Linked DNA regions of Homo sapiens: all the other regions are linked to region 2. Evidence: fine-mapped expression QTL. A gene starts in region 2. Each other region holds a variant in brackets. All regions are shown on one strand. Distances are from middle to middle.

The links. PIP is the estimated chance that this variant, and not a neighbour inherited with it, causes the effect.
Region 1: its variant is fine-mapped to the expression of LINC02561 in whole blood (INTERVAL, PIP above 0.99).
Region 3: its variant is fine-mapped to the expression of LINC02561 in whole blood (INTERVAL, PIP above 0.99).

What each region holds. Positions count from the first base shown.
Region 1 is chr10:5,288,240-5,299,322 of GRCh38, forward strand. No RefSeq gene overlaps it. Among named protein-coding and RNA genes, the nearest start is that of LINC02561, 23 kb to the left of the region's middle. RefSeq lists an enhancer at 2,948-4,147. The variant G/C (reference allele first, on the strand shown) is at 5,848.
Region 2 is chr10:5,264,525-5,275,607 of GRCh38, forward strand. LINC02561 (long intergenic non-protein coding RNA 2561) reads right to left here and starts at 6,712. Exons shown (of 2, transcript NR_149060.1): 1 at 6,674-6,712; 2 at 1,465-2,161. It also overlaps the pseudogene AKR1C7P. RefSeq lists an enhancer at 7,015-8,214.
Region 3 is chr10:5,238,420-5,249,502 of GRCh38, forward strand. No RefSeq gene overlaps it. Among named protein-coding and RNA genes, the nearest start is that of LINC02561, 27 kb to the right of the region's middle. The variant CA/C (reference allele first, on the strand shown) is at 5,014.

The sequences.
Region 1 (11,083 bases), 24 kb after region 2:
TGCATGGAAAATACAATACATGAAACCATTTGATATATGTTAGGTCACAATAATAATAATAAAAAGAATTATCCAAAAAATTAACCTCCAAACTCTCAGAGTCAACAGCTTATCATCCTCTTAGTGCAAAAAAATATAAGACCCTTCAGCCTCCTGGGGTCCACTTACATGATCAGGAGCATAAGTGCCAAATCCCAGCATCGGCATGACATGTCCATCATTCAGCCTCACGGAATGGCTTTGCTTCAGATCCATCACCACCCACAGCTCAGCTAATCTGACTCTGCCTTTCCTTCCATTTCCTGACTGAGAGCCCAGTAGGAGACAAGGCTGCCACGTTCTTTATTTCCATCAATACAAGATGGGCAGGGCAGAGATTACAGCTGCCTATAATTTCAACATGAAGTTGAAATCAATCCATTGACTTTGTTCTGATTCTTCCATGTCTCTGCAGGCCTGTCTTACAGGAAAATCGTACAGAAAGATTTGCATGCTAGAGGAGTTTGAATTTTCTCTTCAGTGTTGTACACACTTGATTTCTAAGTTAAAAAATTTAAAATGCCAAAAGAAACTATCAACAGAGTAAACAGACAACCTACAAAATGAGAGATTTTTACAAACCATGCATCTGACAAAGGTCTAATATCCAGCATCTATAAGGAACTTAAACAAATTTACACGAATGAAACAAACAACCCCAATAAAAAGTGGGCAAAGGACATGAACAGACACTTCTCAAGAGGAGGCAAACATGCAGCCAACAAATATGAAAAATGCTCAACATCACAGATCATTAGAGAAATGCAAATCAAAACCACAAGGAGACACCATCTCACACCAGTTAGAATGGCTATTATTAAAAAGTCAAAAAAATGACAGATGCTGGCAAGGTTGTGGAGAGGAATGAACGCTTATACACGGTTGGTGGGAGTATAGATTAGATCAGCCATTGTGAAAGACAGTCTGGTGATTCCCCAAAAGACCTAAAGTCAGAAGTGCCATTCAACCTAGCAATCCCATTAGTGGGCATATACCCAAAGGAATATAAATTCTTATATTATAAAGATGCATGCTTGTGTATGTTCATTGCAGCACTATTCACAATAGCAAGGACATGAAATCAACCCAAATGCCCATCAGTGATGGACTGGATAAAGAGGATGTGGTGCATGTACACCATGGAATACTATGCAGCCATAAAAAAGAATTAGATCACATGCTTTGCAGGAATATGGATGGAGATAGTGGCTGTTATCCTTAGCAAACTAACACAGGAACAGAAAACCAAATACTGTATGTTCTCACTTATAAGTGGGAGCTAAATGATGAGAACACATACGGGGCAACAACACACACTGGGGCCTATCAGTGGGTGGAGGGTGGGAGGAGGGAGAGGATCAAGAAAAATAACTAATGGGTACTGGGCTTAATACCTGGGTGATGAAACAATCAGTACAACAAACCCGCATGACACAGGTTTACCTGTGTAACAAACCTGGACATCCTGAACACGTACCCCTGAACTTAAAATAAAAGTTCAAAAAAAGCATGCAAATATGTCTTTGATAATGGCACCAGACTTATTTTACAAGGTATAAAACTATCATTAGGCTAGTGAATCTAAACACTAATTTTCCCAGAGTACCTAAGTTAGCTTCCTCACCATTCCTTTCATCATAAATCCCATAACAATACCTCACTGAAAATTTATTGAACAAAGCCTGACACCTGGTCCCAAGCACACACGTAACAACATTTCTTAGGAAGACCTACTCCTACTTTCATTATCTTTGTCTCCTGTACCAAGGACCGTTTCGTTTTTTGATTCTCATTGTCTTGTTTTCTTTTTTTTTTTTTTTTTCTTTTTTTGAGACGGAGTCTCGCTCTTTTGCCCAGGCCGGAGTGCAGTGGCGCGATCTCGGCTCAGTGCAAGCTCCACCTCCCAGGTTCACGCCATTCTCCTGCCTCAGCCTCCCGAGTAGCTGGGACTACAGGCGCCCGCCACCACGCCCGGCTAAATTTTTTGCATTTTTTTAGTAGAGACGGGGTTTCACCGTGTTAGCCAGGATGGTCTCGATCTTGTTTTCTTGAATCCTTTTGGTGAGAAAAAATTGTCTGAAATCATGGATAAATGTCTGTATTCTTGCCTTTCTTTCAGCCATTGCCTCTTTCTGGAACAGCTTTCTCTATCCCACCTAGTTTTCAGCAGTTTAATGACTTCTTACTTATCTAAAATGCACCTCCTCCAGTCACACATCCTTTATGACTCCTTCTATGATCTCCCTAGATGAAGCTGATGCCCTTCCCTGCATACTCTTTAGCTTCTACCGTCCAGGCCAAAAAACCACATCATTCAAATTACATTCTCAACTAATAAGGAACTTCTGCTACATAAAACACCTAACTCATGTTTTCTTTAATGTTTCTATTATACTGTGCTTCTTGCAACCTGTATTTGTGCCATCCGTATTTTACAGCCAATTATGAAACATACAATTATAATTTATCTTACTTTCAACTCATCCCTCTGGCTGGTCAAGGTCAGAACTCTGTCTGATTCTATGAGTCCATGTGGTTACATTTATCTCAACATTGTGTTTGCTATAAATTTGATGAGAATATCCTTTATATTCCATTGCTAAAGCTTTTGCACTAAATAGAGATGTTCCGTATCAAGTCACAAGAAAATTCTGTCTTCATTGATGTGAACTGCCTGGAGTCCACAATTCAACAGGTTAAAAATTTGTCTAACGTTCAGTCCACCCGCCAGCTAAAAACTGAGGCCTTAAAGAACTGAGCAAGCTTGTTCTCCTCTCAGAGCTAGTCTCAGCCACCAGCATCACCTTTTTAGCTGCACTGAAAGAAATCCTGGCGGGTTTTCTCTAGTGGGGACCACCAGATAGGATGATGAGGGGATAAAGAATTTCTTCCCACCTTCTTGGTGATGTCTTTGTCCCTGTGTCACTCTCATTGAAGTAGCTCCCCAGTCCCTACTGTGTCTCTCCATCTCACTCCTCAGTTTTAGTTTCTTCAGAACAATTGTGATCAGAGCAATTGCCTGAATTATTCACACCAAGTGAGTTATTTATCAGAGGAATAAAGGATGTTTGAGCCATTCCATATCAAGTATCATCTTGTTTTAAAACATTTTGCTGGACAGAAAGAAAAGTCATTATTTACAGCAAAACTACAAAGAGTTGGATACAGCCCCAAAACTCTGATAGGAGATTTAACCATACAGAACAAGAGTTCAGCAAGGATGCTGCAATTCACGAGGAAAGGCTAACCCAGGGTTATGAGAGAAATGTTAACATTGCATGGCGATAAAATGCCAAATACCTTGCTGTGGTTTGAATGTGTCCCCCAAAGTCCATGTGTTGAAAGTATAATCCCCAGTGCAACAGTGTAAAGACGTGCCCTCTAAGAGGTCACTAGGTCATAACGGCCCTGCTGTCATGAAGCACTGACCTTATTATTGCGAAAACGGGTCCATTATCGTGAGAGTGGGTTTATTGCAAAAGTCATTTCAGCCCTCTCTTGTCTCTCATCCTCTTACCCCTGCGCTCGTGCCCCCTGCCTTCTGCCATGGGATGACACAGCACAAATGTCCTCACCAGATGTGGGGCCTGTGATCTGGGACTTTCAAGACTCCAAGACTGAGCCAAACAACTTTCTGTTTTTTATGAGTCACTCAGTCTCGGCTATTCTGTTACACAACAGGAAACAGACTAAGACACACCCATATAATCCTCTCTGAATAAATGGGAATCCATTGTCAAGCAACAAAGAGAAATGCTGCCCGACTCTCTGGGGAAACACACCTTACCCCTCTTTTACCACCCCCACATAAGTAGGGAGCCAAAAAGATCAGCTTTCAGAGTTCTCAAAATGCCTTCTGAAAAGTCTGGTTAAGACCACACCTTCTGACCGGGAGTCTGGTTCGTTAAGACTGCTGTGACAAAGTACTGTACACTGGGAGGGTTATAAACAAAAGACATAGATAGCTCACAGATCTGAAAGCTAAAAGTCCAAGATCAAGGTGCTGGCAGATTCAGGGTCTGGCGGGGGCCTGCATCCCGTGTCACAGACAGCTGTCCTCTCACTGTCCTCATGTGGCGAAACAGGCACGCAATCTCTCTGGGGGCTATTTTATCAGAAGCACTGGTATAGTTTGGACATTTGTCCCTTCCAAATCCCATGTTCAAGTTTGATCCCCATTGTTGGAGATGGAGTCTAATGGGAGGCTTGGGGGCCATGGGGTAGACGCCTCATGAAGAGATGAATGCCCTCCCAGGGGAGGGGGGTAAGGTCTTACTCTATTAGTTCCCATGAGAGCTAGTTGTTAAAAAGAACCTGGCCCCTCCCCTCCTTCCTGCTTCCTGTCTCACCACACGATCTCCGCACACACCAGCTCCCCTTCACCTTCTTCCACACTTGGAAGCAGCCTGAGGCCCTCACCAGAAGCCCAGTCCTGAAACTTCCAGCCAGCAGAACTGTGAGCTGAATAAACTTCTTTTCTCTATAAATTACCCAGCTTCAAGTCCTCCTTTATAGCAACAATAAATGGACTAAGAGGGGCTCTAATCCCATTCATGAGGGTTCCACCCTCACGACCTAATCACCTCCACAGGACCCACCACCAAATAGCATCACCTTGGGGGTTAAGGCTTCATATACGACTTTGGTGGGGATGTAAAGATTCCATTCATTGCACAGGGCAAAGGGAGGCCATAGCAGCAGGGTCATAGTGTTCTGGGGCTGCTCACTGCCCCTCACTCCCAGGCCTGCCCCACCCCAGCCAAGGCCTTCATGCTGCTCTGGGCTACCTCTCCCAGGTCCTGCATCCCAAGCAAAGGTACAGACTCAATTGAGATCTCCTGAGACTCACTCCCTGCCCCTGCAACAAGATGGACATGTCCTTGTCAAGTTCTTCTCTAGGAAAATGTGGGCATCACATAGAGACTCGTACCTACCTGTGCAGAGGTTTTCCAGAGCCTCGATCACCCCCTCTGTCTCATCATTGGTTTCTGGCTTCAGTCTCACCTTCTTGGTGATGTCTTTGTCCCTGTGTCATTCTAATCAAAGTAGCTCCCCAGTCCCCACTGTGTCTCTCCATCTTACTCCTCAGTTTTAGTTCCTTCAGAACAATTGTGACCAGAGCAATTGCCTGAATTATTCACTTATTTTGTGGTATGTTTTCATATTTATTGACTGATTTCTCCAACACTAATCACCACACCTAGAAAAGCTCCCTAGTATGTGGTCAGTGCTCAATAAATATTTGCGGAATGAATGAAATTGAGTTCTAAGCATAGGCACAGTGGGGTTTTTTTTTTTTTTAAGTTTTTCTGTGCTCTGTTCTTATTTTCTGTGATCTGCAAACTATCTCTAAATCCTTATGAAAGATTGCGTCCAACACTGTTTTTTGCAGTGGGAAATTGAGAGGCCCATGTTGCACTCAAACAGAGCAGCAAAGCATTCGTCATCCCTCCCCTCAGGGCTGGGACTAACAGCAGGGCCTTCCTCAGCAGAGTACAGCTATGCCCAGCTGAGTGACAAATGCTCTAGTCAGAGAACACAGCAGCACAGGAGGCCAGCATGGTGGCCACAGGGGGAGTTCACGCGTGGCCGCTTGTGGACAGGTGCAGGGTGGCAGCCCTGAGGAGGTTCAGAACACCAGGGGCATCTTGAGGTAACAGCATCAGTCATGAACCAGGATATAAAAATCCATGCTGCTTATTTAAACAGGATGTGTAATCAGACGGTTGGAGTATCTACAAAGAAGCCAGTCAGGAAACAATAAAGCAACCCAGAGGCTTTTAAACACAGGAAGTCGCTACCCTCCTA[G/C]GCTAGAGAAACAGAGGTAGCAGTGCTGGAGGCAGAGCCCGGGGTCCCTGGAAGAAGCAGCAGCCATGGAGGGCCTGAGGGAGGCAGCCAGGACGACTGGAGGGATGGAAGCTGCTGCTGTGTCCCCTAGAGAAGGGAAGAAAGGCACCTGGACTCCAGCTTCCCTTTCTGCTCTCAGCAGCGCCTCACAGTGGCCAAGTCCAGCTGGAAGGCAGCAGGCAGAGAGGGCAGCACCCAGGGCAGAAGAGGCCGCTCTCCTGGGCTACAGCAGAGCAGGAGAGGGAGGAGGAGGGGCACTGAGCAGACAGGAGTGTCAGTCAATCAGGCTGACCCTGGCCCCGCATCCTCAACGGGATGTTAATGAAATACCGCCTTCTTCTGTAGTTCAGGCTGATGGGGCAGGAATGCTGGGTTATGTAAGTGTCGCAGTGTTCACTGAGGGGGATAACACGAAAAACTTATTTGTTCCTGGGAAAATTTCTTAAATCTCATTAAGGCTTCTTAAGCATTCACAAGATTAAAGCCACCTTTGCCAGAGGTTAGGATTAATAGGTGGGGCTAAATAGCCTACCTGAAATTCAGTTCCAGAAATATTTACTGAGTATCTTTTATGTGCAACTGTTCCTAGGTTTTGTTTGTTTGTTTGTTTGTTTGTTTGAGACAGAGTCTCGCTCTGTCGCCCAGGCTGGAGTGCAGTGGCGCGATCTCGGCTCACTGCAAGCTCCGCCTCCTGGGTTCACGCCATTCTCCTGCCTCAGCCTCCCGAGTAGCTGGGTGGGACTACAGGCGCCCGCCACCACACCCGGCTAATTTTTTTGTATTTTTAGTAAAGACGGGGTTTCACTGTGTTAGCCAGGATGGTCTCGATCTCCTGATCTCATGATCCGCCCACCTCAGCCTCCCAAGGTGCTGGGATTACAGGCGTGAGCCACCGCGCCCGGCCCCTAGTATTTTTTTTTAAATCAGGCATGTAAGAATAAGTCCAAGAGTTCCACATTCAATTTTGTGAGGCTATATCTTCACATGTTCCCTTGGGCTGGGACTAAAACAACAGCCTTCCTTGAAACTAGGACGTGGGAGTGATGGTACTAGGGCAATTGCATCATGATGAAAGAATACCCGAGACTGGGTAATTGATAAAGAAAAGGGGTTCAATTGGCCCATGGTCTGCAGGCTGGACATGAAGCATGGTGCTGGCATCTGCTTCTGGGGAGGGCCACAGGGAGCTTACAGTGACAGCGGAAGGTAAGGGGGGAGCCCGTGTCTCACACCACAGGAGTAGGAGCAAGAGAGAGCAAGGGGGGACAATGCCACACTTTACACAACCGGATCTCCAGAAACTCACAGCGAGAATGAACTCATCACAAGGGGATGGTGCTGAACCATTCGTGAGTGATCCAGTCCATGATCCAATCACCTCCCACCAGGCCCTGCCTTCAGCACTGGGGATTACATTTCTGCATGGGATTTGGAGTGCACAAATATCCAAACCATATCAGTACTTTTTGCTGAATTTTGAGCCTCTGGTCCCAGGGGTAAACACCTTCCCAAACTGTGACCAAGAAGACGAAGGAAGGGTTTCCTATCTCTCTGGGGCATGGATTACACCAGGGAAAAACATCAGGTGTTTGAATGCCAATGGCTCTGCCATTTGTAGATTGTAACACATGATCAGAAGAATGCAACAGATTGAATATCCAGCTTTGCTAAGGTTGCAGAGTTTGGTCTGAGCTAGGAGTCCACATTCTTCACCAAGGTCTTCCTCAGAATCTATGTCATGGGACCTGTGCTTGCTGAAGGGAGATAAGCCACAGCTGAAGGCACTCCAACTTCAGAGAACACAGCTCCCTTTAATACGGAAAAGCTTGCTGCTATCAGCACCCCAAGTTTTCTCCTCTCCCAGCCTTGGGTTCTCTACATGCATGCACTGCAGGAAAAGAGGAGGTACTCAGCATTCAAAAGAGCAGTCAGGAATAATGGCCATTATGAAGAATAGTTGGAGGTTCCTCAAAAAGCTAAAAATAAAACTACCACTTGATCCAGCAATCCCACTACTGGGTATGTATCCAGAGAAAATGAAATCAGTATGTCAGAGAGATATCTGCACTCCACAGCAGCCAAGATATGGAACCAACCTGAGTGTTGATGAACAGATGAATGCATAAAGAAAATGTGTTATATATACACCATGGAATATTATATTGCTTCTTTTTCAACCAATTTGTTATTGGTGTATGGAAATGCAACTGAGTTTTGTATGTTGAGTTGGCATTCAGCACCTAATTCCCCAGCTTCCTTCTCCTGTTGCAGAGCCTCAGGTTGGCATACCAAAATAACATATCACCCTGAGTCCCGGAATGTCCACCTAGAGCAAAGCCCTGGACACTATGAATGACAGACAGAAGTTCATTTTGTTAAGCTGATGAGATTTGGAAGTTGTTACTTCAGCGTAATTTAATCTATCCAAATACTCCAATCTTGAGTCAGTTGCCTGCAACCATGTTTGGTTTCAAACACTGTATTAGCTGGAGCTCAGTGCCAGAACCAAGAACTGTTCTATGCCTTTTAAGCAGAAATGAGATAAATAATTTTGGTTGCTTAGAAAACACTGGTAAGGCCTGGAGATGGAAGCTTAACATGACCTCTAAGAACTGCTCCAAGAACAGTGTGTACCTGACCCCGCACATGAGTGTCTGCACCTGCCCCATCAGGAAAGCTACCTCGGAAATCCTTGCACTCAAGAACATACCTCCATCCATAGCTACGATGGCCAGAATCGGGAAGCCACAGCCACACAGTGCCCTGGACACAGGAGCCCAGGAACCACTGCACAGCGGGTGGTGCAGTGAGTGTAGCCACCCCACATCTGCCTGTAGTCACCTTGGAAGCCAGAGGCTGTGCCTGCCACCTCTAACTTTCACTGCCAGCAGAAAACACCAAATGCCCTAGGATTTGGCTGCTGCTTCTTTCTGCCTTCCAACACTTGTGTGGGTGCTTCAAAATGGCAGAACCCAATGAGCATATAGAAGTCGTATTTGCAAGGTCTTTCCACATTGTCTTAACCTCTTTGTGCTTGGCCAGTTTTGCCAATGTGCATTTATTTGTTTATTCAGTTTGATATATCCTAATCTTGTGATTCCAGAGAGTGGAATTCATTTGGCTTTCTGTAAGTTATGCTGCATTTCATTAATTGCACATTTTTTCACGTAAAATGAAATCAGGATGCAACTTAAAGTTGATAGCATGACATAAGTTAGTTGGCAGAGTTTTTTCTTTCTTAAGTAGTATATAAAATAATAATGCATCTTACAACTGTCAGCATCTTATATTTGAAGAACCCACATACCCAAGAGGGAATGTGGGCCTGCCAACACCTCAATTTCAGACTTCAGAACTGTGAGAGAATAAGTTTCCATAGTTTTAAGCCACCCAGTTTTGGTCAATGTGTTATAGCAGTTCTAGGAAACTGATGTAAGTGTGCATGAGGCAGGCAGGAAAGATGATGCCAGAGAGAGATTACTGTGAACAAAGCAACAGGATGTGAAATAACTGGTGTTTTCGAAACAATGAGACAAATTTAGGGTGGCCGGCATGAGGCAACCAAGAGTGGAATGGGTGTGGACAGAGGCTCCATCATGAGGACAGCCTGTGCCTTTCAAGGGATAGCAAAGCAGGCCTGACCCCAGCTGCTTTCACTGGGAGGGCGGGAGGCCTCAGAGGGCAACCCAAATGTTCCACCAGGTTCAAAGCCAAGCCACAGGGAGGCATCAGCCTGACAAAGAAAGGAAGGGGGAAGTAATCGGGAAGAAGCAGAAGACTGTTCCTACCAAAAGCAATACTAACAGGACAACAGGTTCATCATTGTTGGGAAATTGACCAGGAAAAAGTCACCAATGATGGGCAATGGGGCATAGTTGAAGACACAGGGGCTAAAGATTCCAGGGCTCTTCACTCAAGCTTATCTTTCTTTCTTTTCAATATTTGTGGGAGACAGACCACACCACAAAGAGACATGAATATCACAGGCATTTTAGTCTGCAGATTTAATATTTGTAGATGAAGCCATCTTTCACAACCTCGACAGGTATACCGGGCCATCGTTCTGCCAGGTCAGTCCCGCAACCACAAGGAAGAGGACCAGGAAAGAGGTTAGGGGAAGGAGGCACCCCAGCCATGCAAAGGCAGAAGATATTCTTAGACCATGGGTCCCAGGAGCTGCACAGTGAAGGGGTGACCACCAGCTGGGTTAGTAATCTGCTGTAGAAACTTGTCAGCTTCTTTCTTGAGGTTTATAGATTTCTCTCCTTAACATACACACATGCATGTATGCACATACATGCATACATATACACCCATACACACACATACACATACATATATGCACATATACACATACACTCAAACACATATACATACATGCAGACACATATACACATATACACATGCATGCATATACACACACGTACACATACACACACTGTGATGGTTAATTTTTTTTTCTTTTTTGAGATGGAGTTTTGCTCTTGTTGCCCAGGCTGGAGGGCAATGGCACGATCTCAGCTCATAACAACCTCCTCCTCCCAGAGTCAAGTGATTCTCCTGCCTCAGCCTCCCGAGTAGCTGGGATTACAGGCATGTGCCACCACGCTCGGCTAATTTTGTATTTTTAGTAGAGACAGGGTTTCTCCATGTTGGTCAGGCTGGTCTCGAACTCCCAACCTCAGGTGATCAGCCCGCCTCGGCCTCCCAAAGTGCTGGGATTACAGGCGTGAGCCACCATGCCTGGCCAGTGGTTAATTTTAAATGTCAACTTGACCAGGCTAAATGATGCCCAGATAGCTGGTAAAACGTTATTTCTGGGTATGTCTGTGAGGGTGTTTCCAGAGACATTAGTATTTTAGTTGAATTGACTGAATCAAATTTTGAATCTGTAGACTGAGTAGAAAAAAATCACCCTCACCAATGTGGGAGGGCATCATCCAATCCTTCAAGGGCCCACATAGAACAAAAAGGCAGCAGAGGGGCTGACTCGCTCTCCTCTGGGAGCAGGACGCCCACCTTCTCCAGCCCTTGGATGCTGACACTCCTGGTTCTCTGGCCTTCAGATGGACCGGGACTTACACTGGCCACTCCCCTGACCCACAGGCCTGGGTTTGGACTGCATTGCACCACCAGCTTTCCTGCATCTCCTGCTCACAGATGGCAGTTCATGGGACTTCTCAGCACCCCTAATCCT
Region 2 (11,083 bases):
CTGATGTCACAGTCTTCAAAGTTATCAGAAACCTGCATTCAAGAGCACCTGTTAGAGTATTATAGTTCTATAAACCACCTTCTAAAGAGGAGCAAAACAAGAAACAATTGTCTGTGGATGACAAAAAGTTTTAGAGCAGCCATAGTCAAAAACACAATTGACAGGGAAATTTGTTACCTCTGTGGCACACCATAATTTAACATGACAATGATTATTACTGATAATGTATACTAAGTTATATCAGAGTTATATGAGTTTCCCATAATTTTGGAACACATGCCAATTACATATTTATACAAATACAGCCCAAAGATAACCAAACACCATTTCATGTTTGACAATACTTCCTGTATAATTTTTACACCAAGTGAGCCAAATTTCATTTTTAGATTTTAGGGAACCTAATATCTTAAAGGATTAATTAGGTCTGAAAAAGAAATAATTTATAATTTGATTTGGAAAGTTTGTCAAATATCAATGGTTTAAAACACTTGATATTACAGGTCATTGTAAAATAAGTCATTCATTTAACCAAAGTGATAACACAAGGATTCCAAAAAAAGGCAAAAACCTTTTTTCTTTGAGAGAGAAGACTTAATTTTCCAAACTATAAGCCCTAATAAAAACAGTGTGATACCAATTAAATCTGTTTTTCAAAATTTTATTAACAATTTATGAACTTTTAATCTTGACAATAGGATATAACTTTCTTAAGCCTTTTATAACCTTTATAACCTTTATTAAGGAGTCAGTTAATGCTTCACTAAAACCTTGTTAATCTGTCACAGGGGGCCATATTCTTGTCTTGCATCAGTGTGCCTTTGACATTAATGATTAATTTACAGAGAAATTGAACTTATTTTGTCTCTCAAAATTGGCCCTTTCAATCTCACACACCCACCTCTTCCACAATAGTCCTGGGGCCTTGAGGAGTTGAATAGCTTTTATTTCTGGCCCTATGTCTCAGGAATGCAATTTATTTTGATTGGCATCTTCTACTGCGCCTGAAGATGAGGCTTTAATTGTTGTCAGTGTTTAAGATGTAGCAGGACTTGGTGTCCTTTATAGATCCAGGAGTCAAAGCCCTGTAACTCAATGTCACAAGGACTTTAAAAGCACATACAGAAAGATATACAGATGTAATAACCTTACTTTTTTAAAAATTTGTTCTAATCTCAGTTTTTTTTACATTCTAAGCAAACCAAAACTTAATGATAATGGCATAGGAATTCTCTCAATAAACTGTAAAATCTCTTAGGCCATTTACCAAAAGGCAAAAGAAAAGACTTTCTGCACTGCACGGAATATTATGCTGGAAGAAAAAATCTCCTTTAGACTTTGAAGAAAAATTGTTGAGTAGACTCCAGAGGACATGAAAGCCATTGATGTCCTCAACAGAAATTTCCAATATGCTAAGTTACAATTGTAAGTGATGCCTGCAGATTCTTTCACAGGCTGTTTCTGTAGTATGCAGACAAACAGAGGAATAAATCTTCCCTAAATCAGAGGGACAGGCCTAATTTCAGGAATAGGCATGAAACAGGAGCTTCCCTGTAGCCCTCAGACCAGAGGTTTCCTCCAGGGCTCAATCTCTGACCCAACAGGAATATGAGTTCCTAACTGAAACTGCCAATGTTTGCACCATTGTAAATCCACTTCTTTGATGCCCTCACTAATTATTAAAATAACATGCAAATTATAGAAAATTTAGAAAATACAAGGGAAAAGAGAATGTCACTGACAGTTTCTACAGGGTCAATGAAGGGGGTCGAATGCAGAAGTAAAGACAAAGACGAAAAGACCTATTTTGAAAGAGGGGGTCAGGGGCTCCTTGCTTCTAGAGAGCAAAGGCAGCCCTGAGTTTCTACAGTCTTTCATATTTGTTAGGTAGAAAGAGCAGGGAGGGAGAGCTAATGGTTGGTCCACTGCTTGATTTATCACAGGTCCACATAATTGCTTTCTTTGTACAACAGGCTTCAGATGTTCCTATAGATAATCACAAGGAACACTGTGCATGAGGCCTGACTGCCCTCAGCACCCCTTCTGGCGGCAGACACAGTTATCAGTTTTCCAACATCCTGCTTTCATAAGAACAGTTTTCTGTTTGCTCATATAGCCTCCAGTGGTATACTGAGTTGGTCACAACTCTCATTCTTTCAGCCTGTAACAAGAGAACAAAAATAAGCTGTAATATTCCCATTGAAAAATACTTAATGTGTATCCACCTACATGATTTTCCTATACAAATGTGTATGTTTGGAGTTTTTAGGACTTTTAAAAAATTATTTTTTTAACTTTTATGTTCAGGGATACATGTGCAGGTTTGTTATATAGGTATGCTTATTACCTGGGTGACTAAATAATTTGTACATCTCCTGCCATGACATGAAATTTACTCATGAAACAAACCTGCACATATACCCCTGAACTTAAAATAAAAGTTGGAAAGAAAAAGATGAAAAAGAATGGTTCAAATATGATGAAAGACATGAATCTACAAATACAAGAAACTTGAAGATCTGCAGAGAGAATACACTGAAAAAGACCCAGACCCACATACATTATAATCAAACTCTCAAAAGCCAAAGACAAGGAGATCATTTGAAAAGCCGCAAGAGAAACATAACTCATGAGGTACAAGGAATTCTGGATGAAGTTATCAGGAGATTTCTTATCAGACACCTTGGAGGGCATATGAGATTATATATATTTTTTAATTGGTAAAAGAAAAAAGAAAACTTGCCAACCAAGAATTCTGTATCTGACAAAAATGACCTTCAGAAATTGGGAAGTTATAAAGACAATGTGATATAAACAAAAGCTGACAGAGCTCATTGCCACTAGAACTACTCTACACGAAATGCTTAAGGGAGTAATTCACTATGAAATAAAAGAATGTTAGATTAGATGGTTATGTAAAGTCGTATCAAGTATAAAGACCTCTCATCAAGGTAAATATGGGACAAAATACAAAAACATGTATTTTTGAAAGTTTTGTTTATACTAGCTTTCTGTTCAAGTTTTAAAATTTGGCTGAGTGCAGTGGCTCATGCCTGTAATTCCAGCACTTTGGGAGGCCAAGGCAGGTGTATCATGAGGTCAGGAGATCAAGACCGTCCTGGCTAACATGGTGAAACCCCATCTCTACTAAAAAGTATAAAAAATTAGCCAGGCATGGTGGTAGGCGCCTGTAGTCCCAGCTACTTGGGAGGCTGAGGCAGGAGAAGGGCATGAGCCTGGGAGGCGGAGCTTGTAGTGAGCCAAGATTGTGCCACTGCACACCAGCCTGGGCAACAGAGCAAGACTCTGTCTCAAAAAAAAAAAAAAATTTAAAATTCAAATGTGTACAAATAACTATAAATCTATGTTAACATGTACACAATGTATGAGGTTGTAATTAGTGACATCAGTAATGTGAAGTTGAGAGAAACACAGATGTGGAAAAGGGGAATTTATGTACAGAATTAAATGTGTATTGATTTCAAAGGAGATTTTATAACTCTAGGATGTTTTATGTCATTTTCATGGTAACCACAAAGAAAACAATTATAGAATATACACAAGTGAAAATGAGAGGGAAATCCAAGTGTCCCTAAAAATCAATCAGTGACACACACAAAAAAATGTTAGTAATGGAGGATATGAAGAACAAAATGCTATAGACATACAGGAAAAGAAAAATATTAAAATGCAAAATTAAGTTGCTGTCACTAATTATAGTTATCTGTCATTTAATGATAAGAATACATTCTGAGAAATGCATTTTTAGGCAATTCAAGCATCATGTGAACACCATAGAGTGAACTTACATGAATCTAAATGGTATATTCTACTATAGGCTTTCTGGTCTAGACCATTGCCTGTAGGCTATAAACAGTAGAGTGCAGCATGTTCCTCTACTGAATACTATAAGGCAATTGTAACACAATGGTATTTGTGTACATAAACATATAAAAGGAGCAGTAATAGGTTTTGTAATCTTATAAATCCACTGTTGTATATATGGTCAATCATTGACCAAAATGTTGTTATGCAGCACATGAATATACTTTAAATGTAAATGGATTAAACCCCCACACCAAAAGGCAGATCAATTTGCAAAATGGATTAAAAGAAACAAGATCCAACTATATACTCAGCACTAGAAACTCAGTTTGCATCTATAGATGTGACTAGTATGAAAGTGAAAGACAGAAACAGATATTCTATAAAAACAGTGACAAAAAAGAGCTGTGGTGGCTATACTAGGACCAGGAAAAATAAAATTTAGTCAAAAACTGTGATAAGATATAGACAACATATTATATACAAGCATATCTCAGAGATATTGCAAGTTCAATTCTAGACTACTGCAATGCAGCAAATATGACAATAAAATGAGTCACACAAATATTTAGATTTCCCAGTACATATAAAGTTATGTTTACACTATACTGTCATATATTTAGTGTGCAATAGCATTACAGCTAAAGAAAAAAATATGCATGCATTTGTTAAAAATATTTTATTTCTGAGAAATGCCAATAGTCATCTGAACCTTCAGCAGGTCATAATCTTGTTGATAGTGGAGGTTTTAGATATGATGTCGATGCCTCCTGACTGACCAGGGTGGTGGTTACTAACGGGTGAGGTGGCTGTGGTCATTTATTTAAAATAAAATAAAATAAAATAAAGTTTGCTGCATTGATTGAGTCTTTCATGTGAGATTTCCTCTTTCATTTACACACACACACACACACACACACACACACACACACTATATGTTTTGTTTCTTGGGACAACCCTGACTAATATAGATTTTGGTATCTGGAGCAGTTCTAGAGGAATAGAATTTTGAGTTTCCTGAATTGGTTTTGGGGTTTCTGGCATTGTCAGTCTAATCAGATTAGACTTGAAAATGCGAAGGACTTTATTTCCAATAATGAAGAGAGCACTGATAGTCCATGATATGAAGTATTTATAGAGTGCACAAAACATCTGCATTGATACTCTACTTAACAACTTAAAAGAGGCAAAAAAAATAGTGACTCTGTATGTGATACTTTCAAACATTTGTGGAAAACTAAGAATAGAATGATGTTGGTTAGTTGCACCTCATATTGCTGGAAAGAGGAAGAAAAAAAAGGGTGAGCTCAGGAATTCAAAATCCTGGATTAAGCACACATGACCTAAGAGCTTCTAGGTGTGCGCTGAGTGAGAATCCTATGTCTTACAGCCACAGGGCTGAAATTGCTGAAAATCAAATGCAAGTGACACCAAAAGCACAGTCAACAGAGGAAAACATAGATGAATGAGACTTCATAAATTAAAACATTTTTGCATCAAAAGAGACTACTAAGCATCAGAAAGCAACCTATAGAATGGGATAAAAATATTTAGTTGCAAGTCATATTTCTGATGAAGCTGAATACCATGAAATTTCCTGGCAGATGCCCAGCACTCTCAACTTCATCCCAAGCTGCCTTTACTCAGCTGCCAAGACACTTCTTGGTGTCTTCAGACTTCTGTGTGAAGTTTCTCCAGAGTTAAACCCTGCATGTACCCCTAACTTGATGTAAAATTTGGATTATGATATCTTCTGATTGTACACAGATCAGACTTCCTGTTCTATCATGATTTCCCTTCTCTCCTGAATTCAGAATATTTTCTGACAGTCTTTGGATTTATACTTTGATCTAATCCTGGTGACTCCCAACTAGACTAATTGGAAATGCTACAACTGGTGAAAATTTTGTTTCCAATGTCCTTGTTATAGGAACAGAACTATGTTGCTTCATTCGCATCACGCCAGGCAATTCAGTATATTCTCTCAACGATATTCAAAAGTAAACTCTGTTTCTCTTCTCTGTGTGTGTGTGTGGATTGGTTTGGTTTTATGAGAAGGAGTCGTCCAGGCTGGAGTGCAGTGGTGCCATCATAGCTTACGTAGTCTCAGCCACCTGGATTCAGGTGATCCTTCCACCTCAGCCTCCCTATTAGCTGGAACCACAGGCGCATGCCACCTCGCCCGACTAATTATTTTATTATTTGTAGAGACAACGTCTGTGGCCCAGGCTGGATGTGTGTTTTAAGACTAAAATCTTTTAGACACCACCAAAATAAAACAACTCTGAAGTGCCTGTGACACAGGATAATCCCTAGGATCATGTGAAGGTGGACAAAGTACCCTGGTTACTTCCCTCTCTCTCCACATCCGTTTCCTCCCTTCTGTATTTTGGGGATACTATCCACTCCTCTTTCGTGCTACTGTGCTCCAGGAGAAATAAAAACATGGGACAGAATAAATCTTTCTGGGTTCACACTAACAGCCTCTCAGGGTTGGAGGGGAGCTTGAAGGCCAAATTAAACCAAGTAATTGGGGAAAGTATCAGACAGCAACAGGAATAAAATGTGAAGTCCATGGATAAACACCTTTATTATGCAAGGAGTTTATCCTAATCTATAAGAAAATGTCTGGTTCTCAAAAACAGAATTCAACAGACTTTTCCTCTGGCAAACCTGCATTTCAAACATCACTGGGAATTCATCCAGTTGTCTTCAATGAGAATCATTTCAACATGTCCTGCAGCAAATAACTCCACTGTTGGTGCTTTGATAGTTAGAAAACTCCTCTATATGGTGCAAATAATTTTCAATCCACAAATTCAGATGAGTAAGAAGAAAGAAAAGTTACCTGTTTTCTTGAAATTAAACTTCTTTAGGCTGTTGCAACCTTGATCCTCCTTGTCAAATGCCAGCTGAGGATCTGATGGCCTCACAAACGGACCCAAGGTTTTGGGTGGTCCCTCCGGGTGTCCTGCTCTGTTTCTGTGGAGACACTCATGGCTCCCAGAGCTTAGCCCCATTCAGGCCCAGCTGCTTTGCCTTCCGTGAACATCACTCCAGCTCCAGAGGGAAAAGGGATGGTTTCCACCTTCAGATATCAAAGTCTAAATAGGGATATGGGAGAGCAACAAATGAAAAAGGCTTAACATAATGGCCTGTAAAAGTAAAGAAGGATGGTCATTGGGTGGTAACTGTGCTAGGAGACAAAACCCCACCATCCAGACATTTTTCTTCCTCTCCAGGCTATGGAGATTTTCTCTCAGACAGTGTCTGGAAGATCCCACAAAATGACACAAAAATATTGGCATTCACAACAGAAACCAATCAAGGACTCTTGCTCAACTGCACTGAAAGTTAGAGTAACTTATCCTATGTGGTCACAAACTTTGGAAGTTGTCTCTTAACACAGCTGTGCTTGTCATCTCTAAAGCACTCTGCTTGGTCCTCCCAGACCAAGATAAACTCTAACCTCACAGAGAGCGGCTTAAAGTTGACAGTAGGCTCAGTACATCTGAGCAAGGCAACCCTGTACTCACTGTCCAATAAACTTAGTATTTCTTCTGGCTAACTCAAGGGAAATTATAGTGCTGATAATAGCAATGACACCAACGCTACTAGCTAAGATTTTGAGTTTCTATTCTGTATCAGGCAAGACTATCAGGGAATCCTCTCAAATACCCTACAAAGTAGATTTAACTTGTAACTTATTTTACAGAAAAGGGAACAAAAAGGGTTACTTACTTGTCCAAGGTGATTTGAAGAAGAAACTGTGTCCTGAATATGAGCTCTCAGTGAGTGAAGATTCCTAAAGACTTTTTTAGATCCATGCCTTTTGTGCATTATTTGTTATTTTAATATCACTCAATACTATAGCCGACCCCTAGAATCTACTGGAGCCATGCTGTCAGGATGACTCAGCAGTTTTCACACATTCTGACCACTCTTGTATAGGTACAAAATGCAGGGTGCATTGTAAAGAGAAAATTATTAACTTGGATGGTTGTTTGGATTAGAGTACAGGCAGGTGCAAAAAAAGTAATTCAAATTGGTTTAAAATCCACAAAAATGTGTTAGTCCCATAACAAGAAGTCCAGAGGGAGGGTAAACTCTGGGTGTCATCCATGAGAGTGCAGAATTTCTCTCATCTTCTCCTTTTTCTTCTTCTGTGTATTGATGTCGTCCTCAGGCTGGGTGGAGACTCCACAGCAATTTCACACCTCACCTTGCAATGGGACAATATCCCCTTGAAGAAGAGAAGCAACCTCTCTTCAAAGGCTCCTTCTTAGAAGTGAGAGAAACTCTCCTAGAAGTACCCAGCACAGTGCTTCTTATGTGGCGTTGGCTAAGGCTGGGTCACAACTCTTTATCCACAGTGACTCCTATGCCAACCACAATGAAATTAGCATGGCTGACCTAAACAAATTATTTAAAGTAAAACTGATGTTGGAAAGGCAATCATCTTGACTGCTGAAACCATAGTGAGAAAGTGCTTTTCTTTAAATTAGATGTTTCCAAACTTACTTGTGTAGAATAAGTGGAGTCTGATCAATTTCAATTTAGTATATTATTTAGCCTAATTTTCATACGTAAACTTCTATGGGTATTGAAAGAATGCAAAGAGGAAAGAAGAGAGACCTAATGACAACTCTTGATGAATCAAGAACTTGATAAATCAAGGTATAGTAGAAACTGCAGAGTTAAGAGACTTCATTAATATAAGATGTGTCCAACTGAAGGTTTCATAGATGAAGCACGTTTAAGTAGTAAACATGGGATCCATTGCCTGAAGTATAATCTAGACATCAGTAGAAATTCTGAAGAGTTGAGAATGTTGGCAAACTGAAAAGCTTGAGTTTTCCATATGAACAACAAAAGACAATGTCAACAGATCCTGAGAATAAATTTTAGAATAAAATAATGAAGGGCATGTATCCAGAAGGAGGAAATACAATAGGGTCAAGATTACATCAGCTTTAAAGAAACAGGTATTTATTCATGTGGTTTTCCTCTTGATATCTGAGATAAAAGTCTAGAGTTTCAGGATCCAGTGGCTGGACATAGAATTCTTTCTATTACAAAAATTAGAAAACTAAAGTTTAGTTGCTCTAAATTTACTTACAAAACTAGTGTAGTAGGCTCAGTAATGGCCCCCAAAGACATACATGCCCTTATCTCTGGAACCTGAAAATATGTTACCTTAATGGCAAAAAGGGCTTTCTTTTTTATAATTCGTTCTTTTTAATTGAGTGTCATTAAAGAGTACTTTCTAAGCAGTTAAATGCACCAGGAGCTGTATTAACATAGGGCCACAGAGATGAGTAAGAGGAGACATTCACAGTCTCATGAGGCAGATCACAGATTATACTTAAGGCCTGTGAGTATAGAAAGGTTGCTTTCACATTTTTCTCATTGAAAATGTCTTTTCTTGGAAGCCTGGTATGGTTTTACAAAAAGAAGGGGGACCTTTCAGATGTGTTTTGGAGACTGAGTATTTTCCTAACTAAAATGATATTTCGCCCTGTTTCTAAACTCCCCTCCAAACTTGGCTCTGTTTGATTAGTCATCTTTCTCCTCAACCCTGAGATCCTGCCACAGTTGATCCAATGGAACGTCATGTTTGTGAATAAACTAAAGTGAAGTTATGTTGGGTTCCTTAGAGGTGGGCTTCAGATGGACGAAGATGACACTGGAGTAAGAGTCTTGCCTCGAAGATCCGGAGAAATTCCAGAGGATCTTAACTTGGTGGAGGCCACTGGGGACACCTCAGTCACTAGCACTGAGGGTCTATTAATTTCATAATTCATTTGTCATTCAGCTTAGTGAGATTATATAGCTGAGGAAATGGGAGTTGTGAAGGTAAAGAAAGCCAAGGAAGACAAAAATTTGGAAGAAATAGTTGGTGTCTCGGAAAAGGAATGCCACAGTAAGGAGAAATGTCACTGGACACTTAGGGGAGGCCATGGAAGCAGGGCCCACTGTGACTTCCCTAGGACATATGCACATTTGCTTTCATGGACCAATGCTCTATACAAATATTAAAATTAAGTCTTACATTGCCTTGGTATAGACATGAAGATAGACGAGGCTGGATTCATTATTACATATTCATCATTGTTGTATTCTCTTTTTCTTCTGACTTTAAAATAAATTAAAGCTAGAACATTATCATGGGCTCCTATAAGTATGATGGGTCATAGACACCGTGCCTTCTATTCTAATAGGCAGTGGCCCTGCGTGCAGGACCGGGCACAGGTAGTAAGGGCACTAAAGAAGTGCATTCATGGCGGGGCACAGTGGCTCATGCCTGTAATTCCAGCACTTTGGGAGGCCGAGGTGGGCAGATCACGAGGTCAGGAGTTCGAGACCAGACTGGCCAACATGGTGAAACCCTGTCTCTACTAAAAATACAAAAATTAGCTGGGCGTGGTGGCAAACGCCTATAATCCCAGCTGCTCAGGAGGCTGAGGCAGGAGAATTGCTTGAACCCGGGAGGCAGAGGTTGCGGTGAGCCGAGATCGTGTCACTGCACTCCAGCCTAGGCAATAGAGCAAGACTTTGTCTCAGAAAAAAAAAAAAAAAAATTGAAGAAGTGCATTCACAATGGTGCAGATGTCAACAGTTTCACTTACTGACTCACATTCCTGTTGGGTCACAGATTGAGCCACATGAGGACTATAGGGAAGCTCCTGTTTCATACCTATTCCTGAAATCTGGCCTGCCTTCCTGATTTAGGGAAGATGTATTCCTCTGTTTGCCTGCATATTACAGAAAACAGCCTGTGAAAGAATCTGCAAGCATGACTTACAATTGTAACTTAGCATATCGGAAATTTCTGTTGAGGCCATCAGTGGCTTTCATGTCCTCTGGAGTCAACTCAAAGTCAAAAACCTGAAAGGAAGAAAACACTCACATTAACCTTTCCCCAGGACAGCAGCTTCTTCCTGGGAATACAAGGCTTTCCGGGGGCAGAGGCAAGGATGGCAGTATGTAAAGTTTCTGTCCTCATTGGCCTCTAGGTGAGACCTCTTCCCCCTGAGTTCTGCTACTTTTCCATCCCACCTCCCTCCTGCTCTGCTCCACTTCTCAAAAGAAAGACAACTTATCAATCTAAGACATTTCTAGAGAATTGCTTGAGACAGAAAAAATAAATTCTTTATACTAAACAAAGGCAAATCTGGACAAAATACCTGCTTCCTTGACTTGATCACACTTGGTCAGGATTTTCCTTACTCACTTCCCCTGGAACTTGACCCAGTCT
Region 3 (11,083 bases), 26 kb before region 2:
GAAAGAGGGACTCCTCCCTAACTCATTTTACGATGCCAGCATCATCCTGATACCAAAACCTGGCAGAGACATGACAAAAAATTCAGGCCAATATCCCTGATGAACATCGATGCAAAAATCGTCAATAACACACTGGCAAACCAATTTCAGCAGCACATCAAAAAGCGTATCCACCACAATCAAGTCGGCTTCATCCCTGGAATACAAGACTGGTTTAACACATGCAAATCAATAAACATAATCCATCAAATAAACAACCAATGACAAAAACCACATTATTATCTCAATAGATGCAGAAAAGGCCTTCGATAAAATGCAATAGCGCTTCACGCTAAAAACTCTCAATAAACTAGGTATTGATGGAACATCTCAATAAGAGCTATTTATGACAAACCCACAGCCAATATCACACTGAATGGGCAAAAGCTGGAAGCATTCCTTTTGAAAACTGGCACAAGACAAGGATCCCCTCTCTCACCACTCCTATTCAACATAGTATTGGAAGTTCTGGCCAGGGCAATCAGGCAAGGGAAAGCAATAAAGGATATTCAAACAGGAAGAGAGGAAGTCAAATTATCTGTTTGCAACTGACACGATTGCATATTTTAAAAAGCCCATTGTCTCAGCCCAAAATCTCCTTAAGCTGATGAAACAACTTTAGCAAAGTCTCAGGACACAAAATCAATGTGCAAAAATCACAAGCATTCTTATACACCAATAAAGGCAGAGCCAAATCATGAGTGAACTCCCATTCACAATTGCTACAAAGGGAATAAAATACATAGGAATACATTTAAGAGGGATGTGAAGGACCTCTTCAAGGAGAATTACAAACCACTGCTCAAGGAAATGAGAGGACACAAACAAATGGGAAAACATTCCATGCTCATGGATAGGAAGAATTAATATCATGAACATGTCCATACTGCCCAAAGTAATTTATAGATTCAGTGCTATCCCCATCAAGCTACCAATGACTTTCTTTGCAGAATTAGAAAAAACTACTGTAAATTTCATATGGAACCTAAAAAGAGCCTGTACAGCCAAGACAATCCTAAGCAAAAAGAACAAAGCTGGAGGCATCATGCTACCTGACTTCAAACTATGCAAGGCTACAGTAACCAAAACAGCATGGTACTGGTATCAAAACATATATAGACTAAAAGAACAAGAACAGAGCCCTCAGAAATAACACCACACATCTACAACCATCTGATCTTTGACAAACCTGACAAGAACAAGCAATGCTGAAAGGAATCCCTATTTAATAAATGGTGTTGGGAAAACTGGCTATATGCAGACAACAAACCGGACCCCTTCCTTACACCTTATACAAAAATTAACTCAAGATGGATTAAAGACTTAAACGTAAGACCCAAAACCAGTAAAACTCTAGAAGAAAACCTAGGCAATACCATTCAGGAGATAGGCATGGGCAAACACTTCATGACTAAAACACCAAAAGCGATGGCAACAAAAGCCAAAATTGACAAATAAGATCCAATTAAACTAAAGAGCTTCTGCACAGCCAGAGAAACTATCAGAGTGAACAGGCAACCCTGGGAGAAAATGTTTGTAATCTATCCATCTGACAAAGGGCTAATACCCAGAATCTACAAGGAACTTAAATTTACAGACAAAAAAAAAAAAATCAAAAAGTGGGCAAAGGATATGAACAGACATTTCTCAAAAGACTACATTTATGCAGTCAAACACGAAAAAAGCTCAACATTACTCATTAGAGAAACGCAAATCAAAACCACAATGAGATACCATCTCATGCCAGTTAGAATGGCAATCATTAAAGTCAGGAAACAACAGATGCTGGAGAGAATGTGGAAAAATAAGAATTCTTTTACACTGTTGGTGAGAGTGTATTAGTTCAACCATTGTGGAAGACAGTGTGACAATTCAACAAGGATCTAGAACCAGAAATACCATTTGACCTAGCAATCCCATTACTGGGTATATACCTGAAGGATTATAAATCATTCTACTAAGACAACACATGCACACATATGTTTATTGTGGCACTATTCACAATAGCAAAGACTTGGAACCAACCCAAATGTCCATCAGTGATAGACTGGATAAAGAAAATGTGGCACATATACATCATGGAATACTATGCAGCCATAAAAAAGCATGAGTTCATGTCCTTTGTAGGGACATGGATGAAGCTGGAAACCATCATTCTGAGCAAACCATTGCAAGGACAGAAAAACCAAACACCACATGTTCTCACTCATAGGTGGGAATTGAACAATGAGAACACTTGGACACAGGGTGGGGAACATCACACACCGGGGGCCTGTTGTGGGGTGGGGGGATGGGGAAGGGATAGCATTACGAGAAATACGTAACGTAGATGGATTGATGGGTGCAGCAAACCACCATGGCATGTGTATACCTATGTAACAAACCTGCACATTCTGCACACATATCCCAGAACTTAAAGAATAAAAAAAATTGTGGTTTTTGCATTGTTGGAATTTGCTGTTTGATACTAGAATACATTCTTAAATAAATGTGATTATATTATGTATCATTTTAATGGGCATTTCTCACTTTATTTTGCTAGTGACTTATTACTTGCTGTTTATTTTATGTTTATTTTAGACTGGAAATTACATTAGACAAAAAGCAAATTCGAGTGATTTTCTTATTCGAGTTCAAAATGATTTGTAAAGCAGCAGAAACACACAACAACAAAAACACACTTAGCCCAGGAACTGCTGACTAATATACAGTGCAGTGGTCGTTCAAGAAGTTTTACAAAGACAAGAGCCTTGAAGATGATGTAGTGGCCGGCCATCGAAAGTTGACAACTACAAATTGAAAGCAATCAAAGCTGATCCTCTTACAAGAAGTTGCCAAAGAACTCAACATCGATCATTCTACAGACGTTTAGCATTTGAAGCAAATTGGAAAGGTGAAATAAGTGGTACCTCATGAGCTGAGCAAAAAATCAAAAGAACCATGAAGTTTCATTTTCTCTTATCCTATGCAACAACAATGAACCATTGCATGATTTGATTGTAACATGCAACAAAAAGTGAGTTTTATAAGACAACTGATGAGGATCAGCTCAATGGTTGGACCAAGAAGCCCCAAAGCACTTCCCAAAGCCAAATTTGTACCAAAAAAGGTCATGGTCACTGTTTGGTGATCTGCTGCTGGTCTGATCCACTACTGCTTTCTGAATCCCAGCAAAATCACATCTGAGAAGTATGCTCAGCAGATATATGAGATGCACTGAAAACTGCAATGCCTATAGCAGTCACTGGTCAACATAAATGGCCCAGTTTTTCTCCACAACGCCCAGTTGCACGTTGCACAACCAACACTTCAAAAATGGAAGGAATTGTGCTACAAAGTTTTGACTCATTCGCCATATTCACCTGACCTCTCACCAACCACCTACCACTTTTTGAAGCATCTGACAACTTTTTGCAGGGAAAATGCTTCCACAACCAGCTTGATACAGAAAATGCTTTCTGAGAGTTCATAGAATGCTGAAGCATGGATTTTTATGTTATAGGAACAAACTTATTTCTCATTGGCAAAAATGTGTTGGTCGTAATCGTTCCTATTTCGATTAACAAAGATGTGTTTAATACTAGGGAGTTTTTCTCGGTGTGGTAGTTAGAGTTGGAAGAATCAAAATAATTATGAAAACACACCATGAAATAAGTGAATAAATCAAATAATTACTAACAATGACAATTCTTAAGAAACTGAAACAGAGGGTTGAGAAGGAGACAGATAATGGGGACTGGGAAGCTACGCTGAATAGAGTGACACAGGGATGAAGACCTCACTGAGAAGATGAGACTGAAGCTAAGAACAAAATGATGAGAGAGAGGGGGTGACATGGTGCTCTAGGGAACCTCTGCTCAGACAGGTACTATTCTTGGCGTGACTCAAGTACTTTCCTAAAGGAGAACTTGACAAGGACACGGTCATATTGTTGCGGGGGGAAGGGGAGTGAGTCTCAGGAGATTCGATTTGGAGCCAATGCCTCTGCTGGACTTCTCCCGGGACGTGGGAGAAGTAAGCCAGAGACAGGAGATGAGACTTGGCAGTGTGATTTAGACTTGCGCATGCTCTTAACCATGACACCTGCTTCTGGTTCCAGAAATGTAGTGTCGCACTTAAATGTGCTCCCCTACCCGTTACACCTAAAAACAGTAAAAGTCTCTGAAATGTTGAGAAAAGAAGGCAGACTGTCTAGGGACCTAGACCCCAGGACTGAAGAGATGACTGGGCAGTAAGTCCTCTGGATCTTTTTGCCTCCTGTATATCCTGGACTGGGCACTGAGGAGGCTCATGACCTAGAAACACCAGTGGGCACAGTCAGCAAAACAAAGCAAACAAAGGTGGAGAAACAGGATGAGGTGGCTGTCTCTGGGCAGGAGAGTCAAACATGGCTAATGAAAAATGTAAGATGGTGCAGCCACATTGAAAAACAGTGAGGCAGTTTAACAAGTTAAACATACACTTATTCTAGATCCCAGAAGTTCCATTCCTAGACAACCACCCAAAAGAAAAATGTAGATTCACAGACTCCTACACAAATGTTCATTGTACCAATACTATTCATAATAGCCAAAAACTAGAAACAATCTAAATTCCGTTCACTGGTGAATAGAGAAACAGAACGCGGTACATCCATACAATGGAACAAATACTTCTCAATAAGAAGGAGCAAACTATTGGTACAGGCAAGAACAAAAATTAACCACAAATATTTTAATCAAGTAAAAGTCAAATATTTAAAAAATTATTGTTTGACTTGATTTTTATAAAATTTCTGGAAGAGGTGAAGCTTTATAGACAGAAAGTAGGTTACAGGTTACTTAGAGCTGGTGTTGGGAGGAGAGATTGCCTGCAGATGGGCACAGAGAATTTTTTTGGGGTGATGAAAGTGTTTCAAAATGAGATTGTGGTTATAGGGCCAAAAAGGGAAATCTTACCTCTTTATCCTTTGAAATTTCACTGAAAATGAATGAA[CA/C]AAAAAAAAATTATGAGGAGCGAAAAGGCATATAAGTTTATTTTTATGTGTATAGAATGGAAGAATTGCAGAAGAATCATGACCTAATAACCCAGGTGAGGTCCAGGTGCTTATATACCTCACTTCATGGGAGAAGGGGAGGTGAGGAAATAGGCGGTATGGGAGTCAATGATTTTCAGGAGAGATGAATGGACCTGGGAGGCAAAGATCATCCTGTAGTCTATTTACTTTGGATGTTGGGAGCACAGAACAAATAACAATTTGGGACAAAGTTGGTTTAGGCTGTAAATGTTGGTGTTTAATTTTCAGTCTCTTCCTCTGTTACATAAGTTCTAATCCTCTTTGGTTAATGAAATTTCAGGGAGAGATTGAAAGCAATTGTGTTCCTCTTTGTGAGTCCAGTTTCTAGGTAAAGAAACTTCAGAAAAGAGCCTAATCTTGCACTTCTTGGGAGACAAAGGGAGGAAAGGTGGGAGGAGGGGAGGGGTATGGTGGGGGAGACCCTGAGCCTGCTGTCTCAGTTCAGCCTGTCAAAGCTCCCTACCTTGGGGTATCATTTTCCACTTTGTAGTATGATTTTCTGAGCCTTAACACAGGGATGATTGCAGAACTCTAGACATTTGCTAAAACTCATAGAACTGTATGTTAAAAATTGGTGAGTTTCATGATATATAAATTACACTTCAATAAAGGCGCTGGCACACAGCAGTAAGTATTGTTGTTGTTACTGTTCTGATAACCTCAGCATTTGTCTAACTTCCTGCGGCATGAAAAACAGGAATGGAGACAATTTTAGGCAGGAGGAGCTGCACAGCAGAGTTCATTTGGTCTGGGGGATGGTGGGTAGGGGTGCCCTGGGGCTGAGAGCAGGAGGATCTGCTGTCTTTAGTGGGTTCTGAGTACTCCCTACTGCTCTCTTACATGCTGGGTGTCTCCTCTTTTCCTACAGTTCACACACGTAGAACACCCAAGGCTAGGAAAGGAGAAAACTTGGGGTGCTGATGGCAGCAAGCTTTTCAGTATTAAAGGGAGCTGTGTTCTCTGAAGTTGGAGTGTCTTCAACTGTGGCTTATCCCCCCTTCAGCAAGCACAGGTCCCATGGCATAGATTCTGAGGAAGACCTTGGTGAAGAATGCGCACTCCTAGCTCAGACCAAACTCTGCAACCTTAGCAAAGCTGGATATTTGATCTGTTGCATTCTTCTGATCATGTGTTACAACCTACAAATGGTAGAGCCATTGGCACTCAAACACCTGATGTTTTTCCCTGGTGTAATCCATGCCCCAGAGACAGGAAATTCTCCCTTGGTCTTCCAGGCCACAGTTTGGGAAGGTGTTTATCCCTGGGACCAGGGGCTTCAAAATTCAGCAATAATTACTGATATGATTTGGATATTTGTGCACTCCAAATCCTATGCAGAAATGTAATCCCCAGTGCTGGAGGCAGGGCCTGGTGGGACGTGATTGGATCATGGACTGGATCACTCATGAATGGTTCAGCACCACCCCCATGTGATTAGTTCTCGCTTTGAGTTCATGGGCACCTGGCTGTGTAAAGTGTGGCACCTGCCCCCTCACTCTCTTGTTCCCACTCTTGTGGTGTGAGACACAGGCTCCCCCCTTACCTTCCGCTGTCACTGTAAGCTCCCTGTGGCCCTCCCCAGAAGCAGATGCCAGCACCATGCTTCATGTCCAGACTGCAGACCATGAGCCAATTGAACCCCTTTTCTTTATTAATTACCCAGTCTCAGGTATTCTTTCATCATGATGCAATTGCCCTATTACCATCACTCCCATATCCTAGTTTCAAGGAAGGCTGTTGTTTTAGTCCCAGCCCAAGCGAACATGTGAAAATATAGCCTCACAAAGTGAATATGGAACTCTTATTCTTATATGCCTGACTTAAAAAAATAGTGTAAAGTGAGGAGGAGCCAAGATGGCCGAATAGGAACAGCTCCGGTCTACAGCTCCCAGCGTGAGCGACGCAGAAGACGGGTGATTTCTGCATTTCCATCTGAGGTACCGGGTTCATCTCACTAGGGAGTGCCAGACAGTGGGCGCAGGCCAGTGTGTGTGCGCACCGTGCGCGAGCCGAAGCAGGGCGAGGCATTGCCTCACCTGGGAAGCGCAAGGGGTCAGGGAGTTCCCTTTCCGAGTCAAAGAAAGGGGTGACAGACGCACCTGGAAAATCGGGTCACTCCCACCCGAATATTGCGCTTTTCAGACCGGCTTAAGAAACGGCGCACCACGAGACTATATCCCACACCTGGCTCAGAGGGTCCTACGCCCACGGAATCTCGCTGATTGCTAGCACAGCAGTCTGAGATCAAACTGCAAGGCGGCAACGAGGCTGGGGGAGGGGCGCCCGCCATTGCCCAGGCTTGCTTAGGTAAACAAAGCAGCCTGGAAGCTCGAACTGGGTGGAGCCCACCACAGCTCAAGGAGGCCTGCCTGCCTCTGTAGGCTCCACCTCTGGGGGTAGGGCACAGACAAACAAAAAGACAGCAGTAACCTCTGCAGACTTAAGTGTCCCTGTCTGACAGCTTTGAAGAGAGCAGTGGTTCTCCCAGCACGCAGCTGGAGATCTGAGAACGGGCAGACTGCATCCTCAAGTGGGTCCCTGACCCCTGACCCCCGAGCAGCCTAACTGGGAGGCACCCCCCAGCAGGGGCACACTGACACCTCACACGGCAGGGTATTCCAACAGACCTGCAGCTGAGGGTCCTGTCTGTTAGAAGGAAAACTAACAACCAGAAAGGACATCTACACCGAAAACCCATCTGTACATCACCATCATCAAAGACCAAAAGTAGATAAAACCACAAAGATGGGGAAAAAACAGAACAGAAAAACTGGAAACTCTAAAACGCAGAGCGCCTCTCCTCCTCCAAAGGAACGCAGTTCCTCACCAGCAACAGAACAAAGCTGGATGGAGAATGATTTTGACGAGCTGAGAGAAGAAGGCTTCAGACGATCAAATTACTCTGAGCTACGGGAGGACATTCAAACCAAAGGCAAAGAAGTTGAAAACTTTGAAAAAAATTTAGAAGAATGTATAACTAGAATAACCAATACAGAGAAGTGCTTAAAGGAGCTGATGGAGCTGAAAACCAAGGCTCGAGAACTACGTGAAGAATGCAGAAGCCTCAGGAGCCGATGCGATCAACTGGAAGAAAGGGTATCAGCAATGGAAGATGAAATGAATGAAATGAAGCGAGAAGGGAAGTTTAGAGAAAAAAGAATAAAAAGAAATGAGCAAAGCCTCCAAGAAATATGGGACTATGTGAAAAGACCAAATCTACGTCTGATTGGTGTACCTGAAAGTGATGTGGAGAATGGAACCAAGTTGGAAAACACTCTGCAGGATATTATCCAGGAGAACTTCCCCAATCTAGCAAGGCAGGCCAACGTTCAGATTCAGGAAATACAGAGAATGCCACAAAGATACTCCTCGAGAAGAGCAACTCCAAGACACATAATTGTCAGATTCACCAAAGTTGAAATGAAGGAAAAAATGTTAAGGGCAGCCAGAGAGAAAGGTCGGGTTACCCTCAAAGGAAAGCCCATCAGACTAACAGCAGATCTCTCGGCAGAAACCCTACAAGCCAGAAGAGAGTGGGGGCCAATATTCAACATTCTTAAGGAAAAGAATTTTCAACCCAGAATTTCATATCCAGCCAAACTAAGCTTCATAAGTGAAGGAGAAATAAAATACTTTATAGACAAGCAAATGCTGAGAGATTTTGTCACCACCAGGCCTGCCCTAAAAGAGCTCCTGAAGGAAGCGCTAAACATGGAAAGGAACAACCGGTACCAGCCGCTGCAAAATCATGCCAAAATGTAAAGACCATCGAGACTAGGAAGAAACTGCATCAACTAATGAGCAAAATCACCAGCTAACATCATAATGACAGGATCAAATTCACACATAACAATATTAACTTTAAATATAAATGGACTAAATTCTGCAATTAAAAGACACAGACTGGCAAATTGGATAAAGAGTCAAGACCCATCAGTGTGCTGTATTCAGGAAACCCATCTCACGTGCAGAGACACACATAGGCTCAAAATAAAAGGATGGAGGAAGATCTACCAAGCCAATGGAAAACAAAAAAAGGCAGGGGTTGCAATCCTAGTCTCTGATAAAACAGACTTTAAACCAACAAAGATCAAAAGAGACAAAGAAGGCCATTACATATTGGTAAAGGGATCAATTCAACAAGAGGAGCTAACTATCCTAAATATTTATGCACCCAATACAGGAGCACCCAGATTCATAAAGCAAGTCCTCAGTGACCTACAAAGAGACTTAGACTCCCACACATTAATAATGGGAGACTTTAACACCCCACTGTCAACATTAGACAGCTCAACAAGACAGAAAGTCAACAAGGATACCCAGGAATTGAACTCAGCTCTGCACCAAGTGGACCTAATAGACATCTACAGAACTCTCCACCCCAAATCAACAGAATATACATTTTTTTCAGCACCACACCACACCTATTCCAAAATTGACCACATAGTTGGAAGTAAAGCTCTCCTCAGCAAATGTAAAAGAACAGAAATTATAACAAACTATCTCTCAGACCACAGTGCAATCAAACTAGAACTCAGGATTAAGAATCTCACTCAAAACTGCTCAACTACATGGAAACTGAACAACCTGCTCCTGAATGACTACTGGGTACATAACGAAATGAAGGCAGAAATAAAGATGTTCTTTGAAACCAATGAGAACAAAGACACCACATACCAGAATCTCTGGGACGCATTCAAAGCAGTGTGTAGAGGGAAATTTATAGCACTAAATGCCTACAAGAGAAAGCAGGAAAGATCCAAAATTGACACCCTAACATCACAATTAAAAGAACTAGAAAAGCAAGAGCAAACACATTCAAAAGCTAGCAGAAGGCAAGAAATAACTAAAATCAGAGCAGAACTGAAGGAAATAGAGACACAAAAAACCCTTCAAAAACTCAATGAATCCAGGAGCTGGTTTTTTGAAAGGATCAACAAAATTGATAGACCGCTAGCAAGACTAATAAAGAAAAAAAGAGAGAAGAATCAAATAGACACAATAAAAAATGATAAAGGGGATATCACCACCGATCCCACAGAAATACAAACTACCATCAGAGAATACTACAAACACCTCTACACAAATAAACTAGAAAATCTAGAAGAAATGGATACATTCCTCGACACATACACTCTCCCAAGACTAAACCAGGAAGAAGTTGAATCTCTGAATAGACCAATAACAGGCTCTGAAATTGTGGCAATAATCAATAGTTTACCAACCAAAAAGAGTCCAGGACCAGATGGATTCACAGCCGAATTCTACCAGAGGTACAAGGAGGAACTGGTACCATTCCTTCTGAAACTATTCCAATCAATAGAAAAAGAGGGAATCCTCCCTAACTCATTTTATGAGGCCAGCATCATTCTGATACCAAAGCCGGGCAGAGACACAACCAAAAAAGAGAATTTTAGACCAATATCCTTGATGAACATTGATGCAAAAATCCTCAATAAAATACTGGCAAACCAAATCCAGCAGCACATCAAAAAGCTTATCCACCATGATCAAGTGGGCTTCATCCCTGGGATGCAAGGCTGGTTCAATATACACAAATCAATAAATGTAATCCAGCATATAAACAGAGCCAAAGACAAAAACCACATGATTATCTCAATAGATGCAGAAAAAGCCTTTGACAAAATTCAACAACCCTTCATGCTAAAAACTCTCAATAAATTAGGTATTGATGGGACATATTTCAAAATAATAAGAGCTATCTATGACAAACCCACAGTCAATATCATACTGAATGGGCAAAAACTGGAAGCATTCCCTTTGAAAACTGGCACAAGACAGGGATGCCCTCTCTCACCACTCCTATTCAACATAGTGTTGGAAGTTCTGGCCAGGGCAATCAGGCAGGAGAAGGAAATAAAGGGTATTCAATTAGGAAAAGAGGAAGTCAAATTGTCCCTGTTTGCAGACGACATGATTGTTTATCTAGAAAACCCCATTGTCTCAGCCCAAAATCTCCTTAAGCTG